3 linked regions of the Homo sapiens genome follow. The protein of the gene in region 1 purifies or fractionates together with the protein of each later gene. This does not show direct contact. Each region holds a gene or a part of one and is shown on either strand. Other genes may lie near its edges. The genes, in order: PTH2R, NAV1 and ACSL1.

What was found.
Region 2: the proteins of PTH2R (region 1) and NAV1 purify together in Homo sapiens (affinity purification with mass spectrometry; one large-scale study listed by BioGRID and IntAct). This does not show direct contact.
Region 3: the proteins of PTH2R (region 1) and ACSL1 purify together in Homo sapiens (co-immunoprecipitation; one large-scale study listed by IntAct). This does not show direct contact.

What each region holds. Positions count from the first base shown.
Region 1 is NC_000002.12:208,405,150-208,408,906, forward strand, and holds the start of PTH2R (parathyroid hormone 2 receptor isoform 1 precursor), read left to right. Parts: upstream 1-1,642; 5' UTR 1,643-1,894; coding exon 1,895-1,969; intron 1,970-3,757. UniProt on the Homo sapiens protein: This is a specific receptor for parathyroid hormone. The activity of this receptor is mediated by G proteins which activate adenylyl cyclase. PTH2R may be responsible for PTH effects in a number of physiological systems.
Region 2 is NC_000001.11:201,545,627-201,549,283, forward strand, and holds part of NAV1 (neuron navigator 1), read left to right. Parts: intron 1-3,657. UniProt on the Homo sapiens protein: May be involved in neuronal migration.
Region 3 is NC_000004.12:184,755,026-184,757,619, forward strand, and holds the end of ACSL1 (long-chain-fatty-acid--CoA ligase 1), read right to left. Parts: intron 2,241-2,594; coding exon 2,100-2,240; 3' UTR 570-2,099; downstream 1-569. UniProt on the Homo sapiens protein: Catalyzes the conversion of long-chain fatty acids to their active form acyl-CoAs for both synthesis of cellular lipids, and degradation via beta-oxidation. Preferentially uses palmitoleate, oleate and linoleate.

The sequences.
Region 1 (3,757 bases):
TAACTGGTTAGGTACTTGGAGAAATTGTTACATTACCTAAAAAATTGATACTTTAAAACATTAAATTATTTATTTAATGTTTGAAACAGTAAAATTATGAAACGGTAGAAAAGAACTAGAAAAAAGATCTGATGAAAAGATTTTCTAATTTTTAGTATGCAATTCCTTTCTCGCATAAAAGCTAAGGAAGAAATTATAAAAGAAAAGACTGCTAGATTTAGATACATAAATTTAAAAAACCCTCCGCACTGATCAAGATATTATAAATTAGGCCAAAAACAAAGTTGAAAAACATTTTGGTATTTATGTCAGAAAAATATTTTATATTGTAAACATAGACAGTGCTTTTCTACATAAATAGGGAATACTCAAACTTACCACAGCCCTTTGCCCATTCACAGACTATGATCACAATAATAATAATAATATTCATCATCACCAAACAATGCTAACGATACTAGCTAATACTTATTGAGCATTTCCTTGGACTTTATGTTTGTTTACTCACTTAACTTTTCCAACAAAATTTTGAGGGACAGCAGTGGGCTGAATGTTTATGTTCCCCCAAAATACATATGTTGAAGTTCTAGTCCTTAAGGTGATGGCTTATTAGGCATGGACTTTGAGAGGTGATTTGGTCATGAGGGCTCTGAGATCAGTGCCCTTATAAAAGAGACCTCAGAAAAATCCCTCATCCCTTCTGCCATGTGAGGTTGCAATGAGAAGACAGCAGTGGTCAATGAGGAAGCGGGCTTTTATCAGACACTGAATCTGCCAGCACTTTGATCTTGGACTTCCCAGCCTCCAGACTGTGAGAAATAAATCTCTGATGTTTATAAGCCACCCAGTTTATGGTATTTTGTTATAGCATCCAGAGCTGATTAAAGGAGGTTCTCGCATTTCTCCCATCTTACAATTGAGGAGATTAAGACAAAGAGAGGCCAGTATGTAATTTGCTCAGGGTTATGCAGCTAGCACATGGCAGAGCCAGAATTCAAAGGCTTTCTTCCTTCAAGAGGCAAGAACAAGAGATTTTAAAAGGTTGTAATACAATTGGCCAATGAATGTCTAAAATAGTCAAACTTAAAAATAAACTAAAAAAAAAGAATATTAGTTGTCTTTTTTTAATGCCAGGATTCAAAGCACAATACCACACAAAGAACTTTTGACCCACAAGAAATATATACATTATTTCTACTTAACACACACCGAGTATTATTATAATGGTTAGGAGAAAATGAATCAGAGCATTTTAGAGAGCTTTAGGACTGTCCAGCGAACAGCCCAGACGCAGGGCCTACCTGGCCTCGGGAGCCTTTAGCCATCTTATCGCTGTCCTCGGGGCCGATGGTCAGCGCACGCAGGACAGGAAGAAACTTCTGGATCACTCCTGGAAGACCCAGGGCGCCCCTAGAGACAGGGCCCTGGAACCCGGGACAGAGTGGAGGGAAGCAGAAACATTGCGAATCGGGGGTGGCGGCAGCAGCGACATGAGATCCTTTGCCCTCCGCCCCCTGGGCTGCGGGACCCAGTGACTTCGAGGAGGAGCGCGAGCGCAGCCGCGCGGGGCGCACCCGGATCCGCCTGGGGCGGGAGCCGCCCCCTTCCCGCCGCAGGCGGCGCGGGGCTGCGAGTCAAGTCCAGGACTCGGGCCAGTCTCTCCGGAAGACAAGACCAACCTCGCGCCGCGGCGCAGCAGCACGCGGGTTCTGAGAAGCGCGTGGCTCCGGCGACAAGACCCCAAGCACCCTCGGCCGGTGGCCCGGGCCCGACCACCCCAGCTGCGCGTCGTTACTGGCCACAAGTTTGCTCTGGGCCAGCCAAGTTGGCAACTTGGAAGCTTCTCCCGGGCTCTGGAGGAGGGTCCCTGCTTCTTCCTACAGCCGTTCCGGGCATGGCCGGGCTGGGGGCGTCGCTCCACGTCTGGGGTTGGCTAATGCTCGGCAGCTGCCTCCTGGCCAGAGCCCAGGTAAGAGCCAGTGCTCCGCGACACCTGTTTTCGCGGAGCCTCCGGCGGGGACTCAGCTTTAGCGACACGGAGGCCAGGTGCGCGCGAGAGCTCATTCATGTTCACACGTCCACAAACGCCCCGGCACGCACCGAGGCGTACCCGGCAGGTGCTGGCAGGCAATTAGTGGAGGGAGCTTCAAAGATCTGCTTTAGTGGAGTGATGTCCTGGGGCCGGCACTGTTTAGACCAGCATCCTGGCATCCGCAAAGTAAGGGGATATTTCCGAACAGCGGAGTCGTGGATCAAGAGTGTGAGGCTGGGAAGGTGAAGGAACTTTTCTTACTCTTAAACTCCGTGGTCCCCATTTAATTAATCGAAATGACTTTTGTCTGCTGGTAATTTACCATCGCTTTTGAGAATTTAAATTTACAGGATCGATTGTGACCACTATCTGAAAGAATAATTGGCTGTCTGTGATACAGAATCACATACATTCAAGTTAGGAGACAGAATAAAAATACCAAAATACAGCTCATTTGTTAATGTTAAGCGGTGGCTGTCACTTTTGTACTGCTAATATCATTTAGAGATTTTCTGGGCGATCTTTCACAATGAAGCCTCTTTAATGTGCAAGGCACAATTCATACGCACTTTTTTTTTTGAGTCAAATCAAATGTAGGGTTTACAGTCAGCTTTTCAGATGAGCTAGAGAGATGCGTGTAGTGGTGGATGTTATGCAGTTCAAGAGCCCTGTGAATTTAAACCGAATCAAGGTATTTCTCTCCGGTTCGGTAGGGGGTGCACCTAGACCGTCAAATGAAGGCCCAATAAAAAATTATTTCACCGTGAGAATTCAAAGCAGTGATTTATGTGTTGATACTGTCTAAACTTAATACTATGTTCTCGGCTTTCAGATGACTAGTTTAAATTTCAATTATTCTAAAAGTGCAGTTTAAAAAACCTATCTGTTAAAGTCATAACCAGAGACATTAAAACTTAAAGGGGATTTCTAGGCTAGGTGCCACGCTAAAAGTGGGCTTTACTTAACATGACCAAGATGTTTCATGTAGATTTATTTTGTTAATAAATAAATTTTGTTAATAAACTAAACAATTTGTGTGTCATACATTGACTAATAATATTAGCAATGGATAGCTGAAAGTAAGATACACTTAAACCTGAAAAAATTCATCAAGTTACCAGAAGGAATATGAATGCATGGAAAAAAATTTGGTGATAAATTTCCATGATCGTTATAGAACTCTGGTAATCTCTACTATACTTCCTACATTTTTATCTCATAAGATATTTGGATAATATGCTTAAAAATGGCATCTTATATACAAGAGGCAACTGAACTCTAACCGTTTATTTTATTTAGTGTTCTAGATTACTTTTTGTAAGGAAATGGGGAGGTATTATTTAGTACAATAAGAAAAAAAAAAGGCTTGGTGTGGTGGCTCACGCCTGTAATCCCAGAACTTTGGGAGACGGGAGGATCTCTTGAGCCCAGGAGTTCGGGGCTGCTCTGAGCTATGATCATGCCACTGCACTCCAGCCTGGCAACAAAGTGAGACCCTGTCTTGAAGGAAGGAAAGAAAGAAAAGAAAGAGAAGAAAGGAAAGAGAGAGAGAGAGAGAAAGAGAGAGAGAGAGAGAGAGAGAGAAATAAATAATAAATAAATCACCATGGGATTGTGGGCAGAATATTTTCTTTTGCTTTCAATAAAACAATCAGGACATTGAATACTTCTATAACTTTAAACCAGGATTTCCCAACCTTGGCATTGTTGACATTTTGGGACATA
Region 2 (3,657 bases), on another chromosome or scaffold:
CTTCTTTGAAGGTGTCATGTCCAGAGTGAGGTGCACCACTCCATTTATGAGCTTACTGGCACAGGTTAGCCATAGGCAGATCACCTATTTATTATCAGATAGACAAAGCAGATTTTCTTTTCAATTTGTAGATTGCCCCTGAAAACCAGAGAACTGGGCTGATGCAGAAGGGATAAATGAAGGCATAAAGGAACGAGTCTGACTGTATCTTTGCTCTTTACTGTTTGTTGTTTAGTTATTTCATCTGGTTTTGGTGTTATCTAATTTTTTGGTAGACTTCAAGCATAGCATAGAATAGGTCCATAATAAAGGATTTCAAGAGTCAGTTACCAGTGCCTTTTTCCCAGTTCATTGGTGCAGATAATTGAGTTGACTGGGAAGGAGTATCTGGGTTCTGGGTAATGCCAAGATACCAACTGCTCTCTTCCTGCTTTTCCTTTAACAAAGGAGAGACAGCTGATGAGACACACGGTTAGGGGGCCCCAGCCAGGACCCATACGAAGCAGCTGCCTGCCTTTGTCTCTCATCTGGGACCATTCTGTATGGCCCCTCTGGCTCTCCTTCCCCAGAGCTTCAGGAAGAGGGCTGGATTGCACGGCATACCCTGCACTATTGCGTGCTGCCCGTTGGACCCTGGCTTTTTGTGCTCTTCATCGCCCTCTGGGTATAGTTCGCTTTACCAAGTAGATTTAGAAGGTGTCAGCCACACTTACCCCTACCTCACTGGGTGAGTCTGTGGAAGCTGCACCCTCAGGGCCCATGCGCAGTTCCCAGGGGGAGGGGAAAGGGCCACATGACAGTTAAGGTGCTTTCCTATGGTGCAAGTTCCCCCACACACAAGGTTTTATTTTGAAAACCGTCAGATAAGTAGAGAAGGTGAAAGACTGACTAGTACGATGAATGTCTACATTCACTGATTGTTGACATTTTGCTAGATTGCTCTGTATATAGATCAATCTATATAATATTTTTCTGAGCCACTTAAGAGTAATTTGTTGCCAGGCCCAGTGGCTCACACCTGTAATCCCAGCACTTTGGGAGGCCAAGGTGGGTGGGTCACGAGATCAGGAGATCTAGACCATCCTGGTCCAACATGGTAAAACCCCGTCTCTACTAAAAATACAAAAATTAGCTGGGCATGGTGGTGGGTGCCTGTAATCCCAGCTACTCAGGGGGCTGAGGCAGGAGAATCACTTGAACCCGGGAAGCAGAAGTTGCAGTGAGCTGAGATGGCACCACTGCACTCCAGTCTGGGAGACAGAATGAAACTCTGTCTCAAAAAAAAAAAAAAAAAAGTAATTTGTTGACATCATGATACTTAACCCTTCAACACTTAAGCATGTTATTTCCAAAGAACAAGGACATTTTTTTTTTTTTGAGATGGAGTTTCGCTCTTGTTGCCCAAGCTGGAGTGCAATGGCACGATCTCAGCTCACCGTAACCTCCGTCTCCCGGGTTCAAGCGATTCTCCAGCCTCAGCCTCCCGAGTAGCTGGGATTACAGGCACGCGCCACCATGCCCGGCTAATTTTTTTGTAATTTTAGTAGAGACGGGGTTTCTCCATGTTGGTCAGGCTGGTCTCAAACTCCCGACCTCAGGTGATACGCCCACCTCGGCCTCCCAAAGTGCTGGGATTGCAGGTGTGAGCCACCGCACCCGGCCAAACAAGGACATACTTCTATGAAGCTACAGCACCACAATCATACCCGTTAGTACTGGATTTAACAGAATTGTTTAATATATGGCCAGAATCAGATTTTCCAGTAGTTTCCCAAATGCCTTTTTGAGAGTGCTGTATACTTTTTCTCAACCCACAGCCTGCTCAGTTAAGGCCTAAATTGGAATTTTCTCTCTCAGCAAAAGGGAAATAAGGTCATGATCCCTAAAATTGGGATAGTGAACCACGGGAGGAGAAGCACTTTGACTTATATCATTTCATGTAATCGTTCCAACAACTTAGCGAGATAGGTACTAGTATTCTCTCCATTTTACTGGTTAGGAAATTGCAGTTCAGAGAGTTATCTAAGTTGCCCAAATAGTATGAGCCATTATTACCACTCCATGCTGCATGTCATATGTAATGATAGAAAAATAAGAGATTATATTTGTAAAAACCTGCGTCTTTTACATTCCACACATTCTGTATCCTCTTCACTAGGTCTTTTTTTAAATTACTATTATTTTTTGAGACGGAGTCTTGCTCTGTTGCCCAGGCTAGAGTGCAGTGGCATGATCTCGGCTCACTGCAACCTCCACCTCCCAGGTTCGAGCAATTCTCTGTCTCAGCCTTCCGGGTAGCTGGGATTACGGGCACCTGCCACCATGCCCGGCTAATTTTTGTATTTTCAGTAGAGACGGGGTTCCACCATCTTGGCCAGGCTGGTCTGAAACTCCTGACCTTGTGATCTACCCACCTCGCCCTCCCAAAGTGCTGAAATTACAGGCGTGAGCCACTGTGCCCAGCCCACTAGGTCTTATGAGGTGTTAGCACATGCTATGCTGTCCCCATTTGACAGAGGAGGAAAGTGAGGCTCTAAGGCTGGGATTTAATAATATTTATGTAGTCATGATCATGTAAATGACATTTACTGATAGTCTTTATGCAGAGCTCAATATACTTAGTTGTGGTTGCTGGGCAGGCTGTAAATAGCTATCAATAAAGGTGTAACTGCCAAGGCAGGAGGATTTCTTGAAGCCAGAATTCAAGACCAGCCTGGGAAACCTAGCAAGACTCACCCCCCAATCTGTACAAAACATTAAAAAATTAGCTGGGCATGATGGCACATGCCTATAGTATGGTCCTCCTGCCACAGCTACTTGGGAAGCTGATATAGGAGGATCGATCACTTGATCCCAGCCAGGAGTTTGAGGTTGCAGTGAGCTATGATTGCACGACTGCACTCCAGCCTGGGTGACAGAGCAAGATCCCATCTCTTAAAAAAATAAAAATAAATAAATAAGTGAATAAAGGTGTTATTGACTGAAGAAGAGAGGTAGAAGAGGGAAAAGGAGGGTCTCTAATACTCTCCTCTTCTACTGAGGGGATTCAAGAGTCTGTCAAAGTGTTAGAAAACAAGAAACCAAATTTTAAGATCAAAGGTACAAGATAACTCATAAAAGTAACTAAAATCAAATATTGGGAGGAAGAAAAGGAGAAAGAGAGTCGGGTTTAGTGTAAGTGCTCTAAACTTGTCTAACTCCTTTGGTAATGATAGATATTGTCTACAGGTGACAAAACAGGGAATAGTTATTAGTATGTTATCTAGAGTTTACGTGGATAACCACCAAAGGAGCTAATAACAGAAAACTATTTGGACAATAGAATGGAGTTGGGAAGAGGTGGGACAGGAAACTGTTGCTTGTTATTATAAGGTCTTCTGTACAATTTGATGGTGACCACCCAAAACAGTAGTGAGGAAGGCAGGCTTTAAATTCAGATATTCTAGTTTTCTCTTTCTTTCTTTCTTTCTTTCTTTCTTTCTTTCTTTCTTTCTTTCTTTCTTTCTTTCTTTCTTTCTTCTTTCTCTCTCTCTCTTTCTTTCTTCCTTCTTTTCTTTCCTTCCTTCCTTCCTTCTTTCTTTCTTTCCTTCTTTCTTTTTTTGACAAAGTCTCACTCTGTCACCCAGGCTGGAGTGCAGTGGAACAATCACAGCACAT
Region 3 (2,594 bases), on another chromosome or scaffold:
ACATCATCACACCAAACAGAATTTAAGACAGGAAACTAGATTTAAACACAACAGGCTTGGAAGAAATTAGGGGGTTGATTCATTAATACCTGTGGAAAAGAAAATCTTTAAAATGGTAACAGAAGGAATAGGGTGGAGATAGAAGAAAAGAAACAAGAAAAAGTTGGCTGCTATAAAGAGACATCTGAAATAATTCTACAGTAAGAGAATGACTAAACAGTGCTAAAATACAATAGTGGGATTACATTCACCACGGAATCACCAGTTACAGCCAGCGTCGCCTGAAATACATTTTCCAGCAAGGAAGCTGCATTTTCAGGACCTTCTCTGTTATTCACACCATGACTTTCTTTTCCACAACCAGTTAGGACTTTTGCCACAGACAACCTGGTGGGAGGCTCGGGTCAGTGTCTGTCAGTGCCTGAGGCCAGCTGAGTTAGAGGAGGGTGACTAAGAAGAAAAGAAGACAACTGGGAAGGATTCCAGGCCCAGGGCCATTCTTGCTCTTCGCTTGTGCACATTACAGGCTGTTCCGAATATTAAACATGACATTAAAAAAGATGCCTCACTCACCTGAAATGCAGAAATATTTATTTTGGTTTCCTTCATTGTTTTTGGAAATTTTGTTTTGGTTTATAAAACATAGAAATAGCCAACACTTAAAGCAAACATTCAAAACCCCAAGGTGACAAATTATTGACTTTTTGTGCAATTAAGAATACATATATGAAGTTAGGCTACCAAGTAGTGTTATTACAATGACAATTCTTTAGTGCAAGCCCTGTTGTGCTTGTATATAATACATGTACTCTCACAGACCCCAAAACAGCTGCTTTAAATGTACAAATGACAGCTCAATTCAGTCAAATGTGGCAAAGACTCACAATAAAGTGAACTGCTGTTAATTTCCCAAATTAACTTTAAAAAATCCCTGGAGAAGTGAATCCCAGGAAATGAACTTTCCAGATTTCTACATCCTAGAATTTTGGCTTGTCAAACACATTTCATAGAAATCAGGTAGCATTATAAGAACATTTGCTTATTACTGTCCATTTCAATAAGTACTCAAGTATATACTCCCTTAATAGCTTTAAAGAAATGCTTGCCTGAGAGTTTATTTTTTGGGGAAAAAGGCAAGTTAATCCCAACATGATCTTTTGATATGAAAACCACATTAAAAATCTGTTGGCCTTTACACAGAGTGAGTGGTTCAGTGAAGATAAAGTAGACAGTTATTCAGGCGTCACAGCTGAGCATGGCTGATCCAGGTAACTCTTTCTTGAAATGCTTGTCTTCACTATAGAATCTAAGGCAGATTTTTAAATAACCCCTGAAAAAGGATGGAGTCGGGGAATCAGGCCTGGAGAACCGAGTCCAAGAGCATTCTGCCATGAAAGAGAATCCACGCGTTCTGATGAGCACCCATTTGCCAGAGGCTCCTTATCTGCATGGTTCTGAGTTGGATCTGCCCTCCCGCTTACTGGAAACCTTATGCTCCAACAGAAACCACAGGGGACTGGAGAAGAACATGAGTTTCGTAACCCTTACGAATCAGAAGGGTTCTGTGAATGCCTGTGAGAAGGGACAGTAGCAGGGATTTAAAAAGATCTCTGGTCCGCTTGTGAGATTCTCCAGCCAGGACAGTTGTTCTTATTTTTAAAGGGAACACTTCCCTCTAGTGCACTGTACTCTTTAGAGCAGCAGACAGCTGCAGAATTTGCAGCAAGTAGCAGACATCTCAGAGATAGCAAAGTCCTAACCCCTTGATTAGAGAAACAGGGAGACAGAAGATTTAAAACCCACTTTTTAAACTGAGGAAGTCTCAAATAACTTAGCACATTTATAGTATCCCCTTTACAATTTTTAAGGCTCATTTTGGAAAGTGTGTATTACCATAAACATGGTCTGCAACATGAGGTGACTGTAAGGCAGTGTTCTCTTTCCTCTAGCATTCCTATGAGAAGAACCCCGAATGGACAAGTCAAACACGAACGCTTCCTTCCCTACACTTGCTGTATTCAAAATTAACAACATGAAGGCCATCAGCAGGAGAAGAGATTGTGGAACTGTGCCATTTCCTCTGAGCTTTCTTCTTCACACTAAACCTTGATAGTGGAATAGAGGTCATCTATCTGCGACCTGAAATAGTTCCGCAGCTCTGGCCTTTTCGCCTTCATTGTTGGAGTCAGAAGGCCATTGTCGATAGAAAATAATTCAGGGTGCAATGTGATGCCTTTGACCTGCCAATAAACAAGGCAGTTAAAAGAGGAAAAAGGACACGGGCCACCAGTCTCAAAAGCACGTAAGCCTTGGAGGGGATCAACACTCTCCAGCCATCCAATCCATCCTCTCATTTCAGCCAAGCTGCACCTTCTCAACAAAGGACAGGCATCCTATTCTTAGGATAGGATTCGGGATCATATTCTGATATCCAGGAAAAGAGAATAAATGCTTTTGATTTAAAAACCTTTCCCCTGTCAAACTACTCCATTATTTATTCCTCATGTATGTCTTTAGGTCACCCCATATGTTTATATAATCTACCTGTAAAAAAATCTTAATGGAAAATTTGTTTTACAGGAATTCACCCACTC